Linked DNA regions of Homo sapiens. The protein of the gene in region 2 purifies or fractionates together with the protein of the main gene of each other region. This does not show direct contact. Each region holds a gene or a part of one and is shown on either strand. Other genes may lie near its edges.

Region 1 (3,500 bases), on a different chromosome or scaffold from region 2:
CCTCACCCTGGGGCAGGAGAAGTCACCTAGAGGTACTAGGCCAGGATCAGGAGGCCTCTCCAGGGCAGGGTGGCCAATTCCTGGGTGCAATGGAAAGGGCTGGGCCGTGAGTCAGGGCACCGATCTGCTTCCAATGGCCGCTGGCCTCGGCTGAGTCTCTTCTTTGCATCCCTGTCGCACCTGCCCAGCCTCCTTCATGGGACTGTGGAGGGGATCCGTGAGATGAGGTCACAGCATGGGGAGATGTGACTGGTTTCTTACGTTTCTTTTGGAAATGAGGTCCCGTCAAGCATGGGAGACTGGCCTAAGCAGCTTGGAGGGTAGGAGGATTGGTGGCAGGCAGCCCAGTCCATCTCAGGAGAGGGGACTGTGAAATGGCCATCCGCTAAGAGGCAGCGCTGATGCCTGGAAGATGCAGAATCACTGCAGATGCTCAGCTCGCTGGTGGGCTTAATTTCCTACTTATTGTCGTGGGAGGCAGAAAGAGAATGAGAAGGAGGGGGTGCCCTCAAAAGAGAGAGGTGGAGAATGAGACAAAGAAATGAGAGAGCCAGAGAAACAGAAAGAGCGAGAGAGCTAGAGTAAGGGAAAAAGAGCAGCGCTATCCAGCCAGGAGTTCCCAGGGTTTCCACAGCCAAGGGAACAAAGCCCTAATCCGGGACACATATTTGGTTACAGAAGTGAGTGCTTGGCTCACCTAGGCTTACAGCAAGAACAAGTTCTGCAGGTGAGGATGGGGCCTGCTGCCTGGGGCCCACGAGACAAGCCGGGAGCAGAAAGGGTGGGGAGCCAGGTGAAGCCAGGTTTTCAGAGTCAGGTCGGAAGGGAAGGCAGAACCCAGCAACCTGGGCTGCACGAAGCAGCAATGGGAGTGGTCTGGGCAAGGGTCTGGCAGGGATCCCACCCCTCTGCAGCCCAGAAACCCAGCCACCTGGGAGCGCTGGCAGGGGCACCAGGCTCCCTGGAGTAAGCCTTTGAGAGCAAGTCGACTGTGACAGCCCAGCCTGCGAGGAACCCTGCCTCCGAAAGTTCCCCAAAGTCAGTTTGGGGAAGTTTCTTCCAGTAAAGTTTCCATGAGGTGGCCTTCTGGCTGAGGCAATGGGGTCAGTCCAGAGCAAAATTCTCAAGTCCTTGTGTCCTCTTGTCTCTGCCTGAGCCTTGTCTGCTACCCCACCCAGATGCCTGACTTTAAATGACTGGTAACAGCTTAAAATATGATCCGTTGTAGGGGAGGGCACTCCTCACATCTTAGCAAGAATCAAAGGCTAATATTTACAAGTACTTTCCAACTTTCATCGCTTCCCAGAAGGAACACCCAGCTCCCCACAGCATGGGAGAAAGATGGTAACCCTGAGAAGTCAAATATCCCACTGTGTGTTGCTGGGCAGTCTCTGGGCCTCAGTCTCCCATCTCTAAAATGAGGAGGCTGATTGAGGTCCCAGGTGTGACTTCTCAGACTCTCAAACCTCAAGGCTATATAATAGGCAAACAGAGTTGATAACAACTCCAGGTAAACAGACATGTCTTTTTAAAGTATTGAGCGGGCTTGTCCCTGAAATCACCCTGGAAAGACAGCTTTGGCCAGGCATGACGGCTCATATCTGTAATCCCAGCACTCTGGGAGGCCAATGTGAGAGGATCGCTTGAGCCCAGGAATTCAAGGCTGCAGTGAGCCATGATCACGCCACTGCACTCCAGCCTGGGCAACAGAGCAAGACCCTGCCTCAAAAAAAAAAAAAAAAAAAAGGCTGGGCACAGTGGCTCATGCCTGCAATCCCAGCACTTTGGAAGGCCGAGGCAGGTGGATCACCTGAGGTCGGGAGTTTGAGGCCAGGCTGGCCAACATGGTAAAACTCCATCTCTACTAAAAATACAAAAATTAGTCACGCATGGTGGCGCACGCCTGTAATCCCAGCTACTGGGGAGGCTGAGGTGGGAGAATTGCTTGAACCCAGGAGGTGGAGGTTGCAGTGAGCTGAGATTGTGCCACTGCACTACAGCCTGGACAACAAGCAAGACTCTGTCTCAAAAAAAAAAAAAAAAAAGAGAAGAGAAGAGAGCCCTGTGCAAGGTGGGAAAAAAATGAGAAAACTATAACTAAGAATTTAATATCTCACCTTTCTTTTTTTCTTAACAACAACAAAAAAAGATTTTTAGAAGTAATTGAATGAATTTCAAAGGTTTTGGTAGACATGGCCATCTGCTCCTCAGTTCAGGCTGCAGGTGTAACTTCAGCTATATCCCTTCCTGCCGCTGAAAATGGTGTATGTTCAGGTGTGGGAAGATCAGGCAGCTGGCTTTGGCAGAGCAAGAGGCTTCAGAGCAAAAGCTAGCATATTTAGATGTATATTATTATATCATGTCACTCATAGTGAGTTTCTGTAATAATCCTTGTAATAACCTAATAACCAAATCCATTTTCTAAGCATTATCCAAAATGCTTTCCCTCATACTGTCCCACTGAGCCTTTGCAACAGCTCTGAGAGGTGGGCTAATAATATTAACCCCATTTTACAAAGAAAGCTGTGGAAGTGAGTTGCTTTCAGGTCTCACAGCGCAGGAGAGACAGAGCTGGGGCTCCAAGTTAGAGCCAGCTTCCTTTGAATTCTGTGCTTGGTTCAGAGTGACTCACTTTAGTAGACTGCAAGTAATCTGTGCCTAAAATATGGGATAAAGAAAAAGAACAGGTTAGGCACGGTGGCTGTAATCCCAGCCCTTTGGGAGGCTGAGGCAGGAGGATCACTTGAGGCCAGGAGTTCGAGACCAGCCTGGGCAACATGGCAAAACCCCATCTCTACTAAAAATACAAAAAATTAGCCAGGCATGGTGGCACATGCCTGTAGTTCCAGCTATTTGGGAGGCTGAGGTGAGAGAATCACAGGTCAAGGCTGCTAGTAAGCCCAGATTGCGCCACTGCACTCCAGCCTGGCCAACAGAGTGAGACCTTGTCTCAAAAAAAAGAAAAAAAAAAAAGAAAAAGAAAAACCCTTTCAGGTGAGGTACAGGTAGAATTTTGCTCTGGTTAAATTCAACATTGGCCAGCAGGTCCAATAATAAAAAATAAATAAATGTGGCAAGTAATAAAGTAACAAATGTGTCAAGTTTGGCTGAAAAATGGAAGTGTTCATTTATTAGTTATTGGTGTTGATCACTTGGGACTTCCTAAAACGAATGGACTTCAAAATCTTGAAAAATCAAATAGCTTATTTTTTAGCTGTCCATCAAGAGAAAAGATTTGGGATGAAGGGTCTGTTTTAAAAAGTCTAAAATTGAGAGCACAGGCTGGATGTGGTGGCTCATGCCTGCAATCCCAGCACTTTGGGAGGCCGAGGCAGGCAGATCACCTGAGGGCAGGAGTTCGAGACCAGCCTGGCCAACATGGCAAAACCTTGTCTCTACTGAAAATACAAGTATTAGCCGAGCGTGGTGACGTGCGCCTGTAATCCCAGCTACTCCGGAGGCTGAGGCAGGAGAATTGCTTGAACCTGGGAGGCGGAGGT
Region 2 (3,500 bases):
AGGGAGCAAGGAGCACAGCTTCCAGCATCCCTTCCTCCAGGTATCTGGCCCTGTCCCTCCTACCTCCTGTCTCCCGGGCCTCAGACCAGGCGCCACCCCCGGCCATGAGGCCAGGCTGTTTCCTGACTTAGGAGTGGAGGTGTCTCCTGCTCCCAGAAGAGCCATCCACTTCTCTCTTTCCCTCCCCAGAGCAGAATCCAAGGTTTAGAATAGGGCAAAGAGCACCATCCTCTGCGAAAGTCCTGGCAAGTGGTCATGTCCTCACCACATCCAAGTCAGGACACGTGGAAAACATCAGCCCTAGTGACAAAAGTCAGCTCTCTATCCACTGGGAGCCCAGACCCCAATTGGGACAGGGCAGACACCATAAATGGAAGACACTGTTCGTTGAACTGAGAATCAGGAGACTCAAATGTCAGCCCCAGCTCTACCAGCAACTTGCTTTGTGGCCTTACATAAGTCTTTGAGCCTCTCTTGGGTCTAGGCTTCTCCACCTGCGATTTGACTAGGGGTTGGCCTAGATGGATGGTTTTCAGACAGGGCTCTGCACAGCCTTAGGGTTCATCAGGATGTATGGGGGCTTTGGGGCAGACCTAGGAGGCTGTCTCTAGCCTCCATGGCAGCTCTGCATTTGTCTATTTTACATATTGGGGTTCTGGGTAAGCTCTTGTTTGACAAAAGTTTGCATTAAAAAAAATAGTTAAAGATGATCCCCGAGATCCCTTCCAGCTCTGAAGTCCTCGGGTTTTCATCCCTGCAGGCAGTGGGCATGTTCCTGGGAGAATTCTCCTGCCTGGCTGCCTTCTACCTCCTCCGATGCAGAGCTGCAGGGCAATCAGACTCCAGCGTAGACCCCCAGCAGCCCTTCAACCCTCTTCTTTTCCTGCCCCCAGCGCTCTGTGACATGACAGGGACCAGCCTCATGTATGTGGGTGAGTAACCAGGCCAGGCTGAGAAGGGCTCAGGGGAAGCTGTGGCTGAAGGGGCTACTGGTGAAACAGCCCTATCCCACCCACCTCCACTTCATCCCACCATTCCCCCAGACTTCACACGCACAGGCACACAGGCAGGACTGATCGAGCGCTTACTATGAGCTTGGCATGTCTATCACCAAAGACCCCTTAGTGACAGATGGCCTTCGCCTTGGGAAGCTAACTGTAATTTGTTTCTCCTTTCCTAGCTCTGAACATGACCAGTGCCTCCAGCTTCCAGATGCTGCGGGGTGCAGTGATCATATTCACTGGCCTGTTCTCGGTGGCCTTCCTGGGCCGGAGGCTGGTGCTGAGCCAGTGGCTGGGCATCCTAGCCACCATCGCGGGGCTGGTGGTCGTGGGCCTGGCTGACCTCCTGAGCAAGCACGACAGTCAGCACAAGCTCAGCGAAGTGATCACAGGTGCGGCCAGGGGCAGGGACACGGGGCTGCCCTATCCTGCCCTGTCCTCCTTGGGAGCCCAGCACAGACTCATACAAGCTCTGCCATGTGCCATATACCAAGCCCTGGGTGAGGTGGGTAGCTCTGGAGGTGATGGATAGAATGTAGGGAAGACTGCAAAGGGATGTGGCTCCACCAAGGATGAGTGGCAGGCCGGGCAGGGCGAGGGGCTGGCTTGTCCTTTGATACAGATGCAGACATGCAAACTACTGGATTTGGGAGTGGAAAGGAACAGGTGCTTACCAAGTGCCCAGCCTGGTGCTGAGCACTGTGTGTTCATCATCACAGTGACTCCCACAGGCCCCAAACGGATGCATCACAGCCCATTTTACAATGAAATGACTGTCCTGGGTCACTTAGGGTCAGGATCAACCAAGAAATGTCTATCTCAAAGCCTGTTGCTTCTTGAAAGACCTGCGTCATACCCCGTGGGGCAGCTCTTAGACACAGGCAGGCCTCTGGGGCCTTAGCCTGGCACTGCTGGCATGCCCCTCAGGAACCAGGGAATCAGGGACAGGCAGTGGTGACTGTGCCTATGAACTATAGGGGGCCCTGCAGAGGTCAGGGGCTGGCATGTTTGGTCGCTGTGGCCATGCTCTCCTGGCCCCCAGCCCCAGTGCAGCCCTGTTCTCATCTGGGTCCCTCCTTCCCCACAGGGGACCTGTTGATCATCATGGCCCAGATCATCGTTGCCATCCAGATGGTGCTAGAGGAGAAGTTCGTCTACAAACACAATGTGCACCCACTGCGGGCAGTTGGCACTGAGGGTGTGTGTGGGCACAGGGGCCTGGAAGGAGTGGGGTAGAAGGGAGCCTGGGGAGCTGAGCACAGGACAAGGTGCCAGGGTTCACTTGTGGGGGGTGAACTTCCTGCCCCGCCTTGCCTTCCAGATGTGTTTTGACAAGTCTTCTGACACCTGCTGTGTCAGGAACTAGAGGAGACCAAGGACAGAGATGAATGAGATGCAAGCCCTTCAGAGGAGGTGACCAGCAGGAAGAAAGGGCAGTCAGTGAATTCAAGTTTGGACCACTTGTGCTCAACTGATGTCTCATTGGCCATGCCTATCTGAGTCTCTCAGGGCAGGGAGGGTGGCATTCGAGCTGCAAATTTCAACAGGCAGTAGTAGGAGCAGCTCCAAACAGAGCAAAGGCACAGGGGACTGGATGTGAATTTGAAAACCAGTGAGGAATAATTTTGAGTGTGGCCAGGTGCGGTGGCTCATACCTGTAATCCCAGCACTTTTGAGAGACCAAAGCGGGTGGATCACTTGAGGTCAGGAGTTTGAAACCAGCCTGCCCAACATGGCAAAACCGTCTCTACAAAAAATACAAAAATTAGCTGGGCGTGGTGGCGCATGCCTGTAGTCCCAGCTACTCAGGAGACTGAGACAGGAGAATCGCCTGAACTGGGGGAGCAGAGGCTGCAGCAAGCCGAGATTGCGCCACCGCACTCCAGCCTGGGCAACAGAACGAGACTCCATCTCAAAAAATAATAATTTGAGTGCAGTATAGGTTTGATGTTGGGGAAATAATCAGGAATTAAGTAGGTCAGGGTCATGTCATTAGAGAACTTTACCATCAGGCAAGTAGATTTAGACTTTAAATGACGGAGGAATCACTGAAAGTTTTTGAGCAGGGAAGTAAGTATCAAAATTATGAGATTAGCAAGATACAGCTGCGCTTTCAAAGAATGTCCTGGGGGCTAGTGCCTGTTGGGGAGCAGCTCTTGTCTGGCCCCCGGTGAGCTAAGGGACTTAGGCAGAATGTGAATTAGCTATATCACTGAGCATGCAGTCTATTTCCACTCATTTCTGTTTTCTAGCAAGACCTTAATGAGTGAAGCAGTGCATGGACTTACCTTCTGGCGCAAGCTCCTTGTCACAGACCAGTAACACACTGAACTAGAAAGCTGTGTTTTTCCAAACTTGTGAAAATAATGTAGTCAGTTGCAGCTGGCAGTTCTTTTTTTAAATGAATAGAATTTTTAAATATCAGAGCATTGTATACTGTAAGGGTAATGTTTTTATGAGTGTGTGTGTGTGTGTGTGTCCATGAACCTGTGCACACGT

What was found.
Region 1: the proteins of SLC35F6 (region 2) and ECE1 purify together in Homo sapiens (co-immunoprecipitation; one large-scale study listed by IntAct). This does not show direct contact.

Annotation. Positions count from the first base shown.
Region 1 is NC_000001.11:21,283,964-21,287,463, forward strand, and holds part of ECE1 (endothelin-converting enzyme 1), read right to left. Parts: intron 1-3,500. UniProt on the Homo sapiens protein: Converts big endothelin-1 to endothelin-1.
Region 2 is NC_000002.12:26,774,284-26,777,783, forward strand, and holds part of SLC35F6 (solute carrier family 35 member F6 precursor), read left to right. Parts: coding exon 1-40; intron 41-760; coding exon 761-932; intron 933-1,180; coding exon 1,181-1,393; intron 1,394-2,088; coding exon 2,089-2,199; intron 2,200-3,500. UniProt on the Homo sapiens protein: Involved in the maintenance of mitochondrial membrane potential in pancreatic ductal adenocarcinoma (PDAC) cells. Promotes pancreatic ductal adenocarcinoma (PDAC) cell growth. May play a role as a nucleotide-sugar transporter.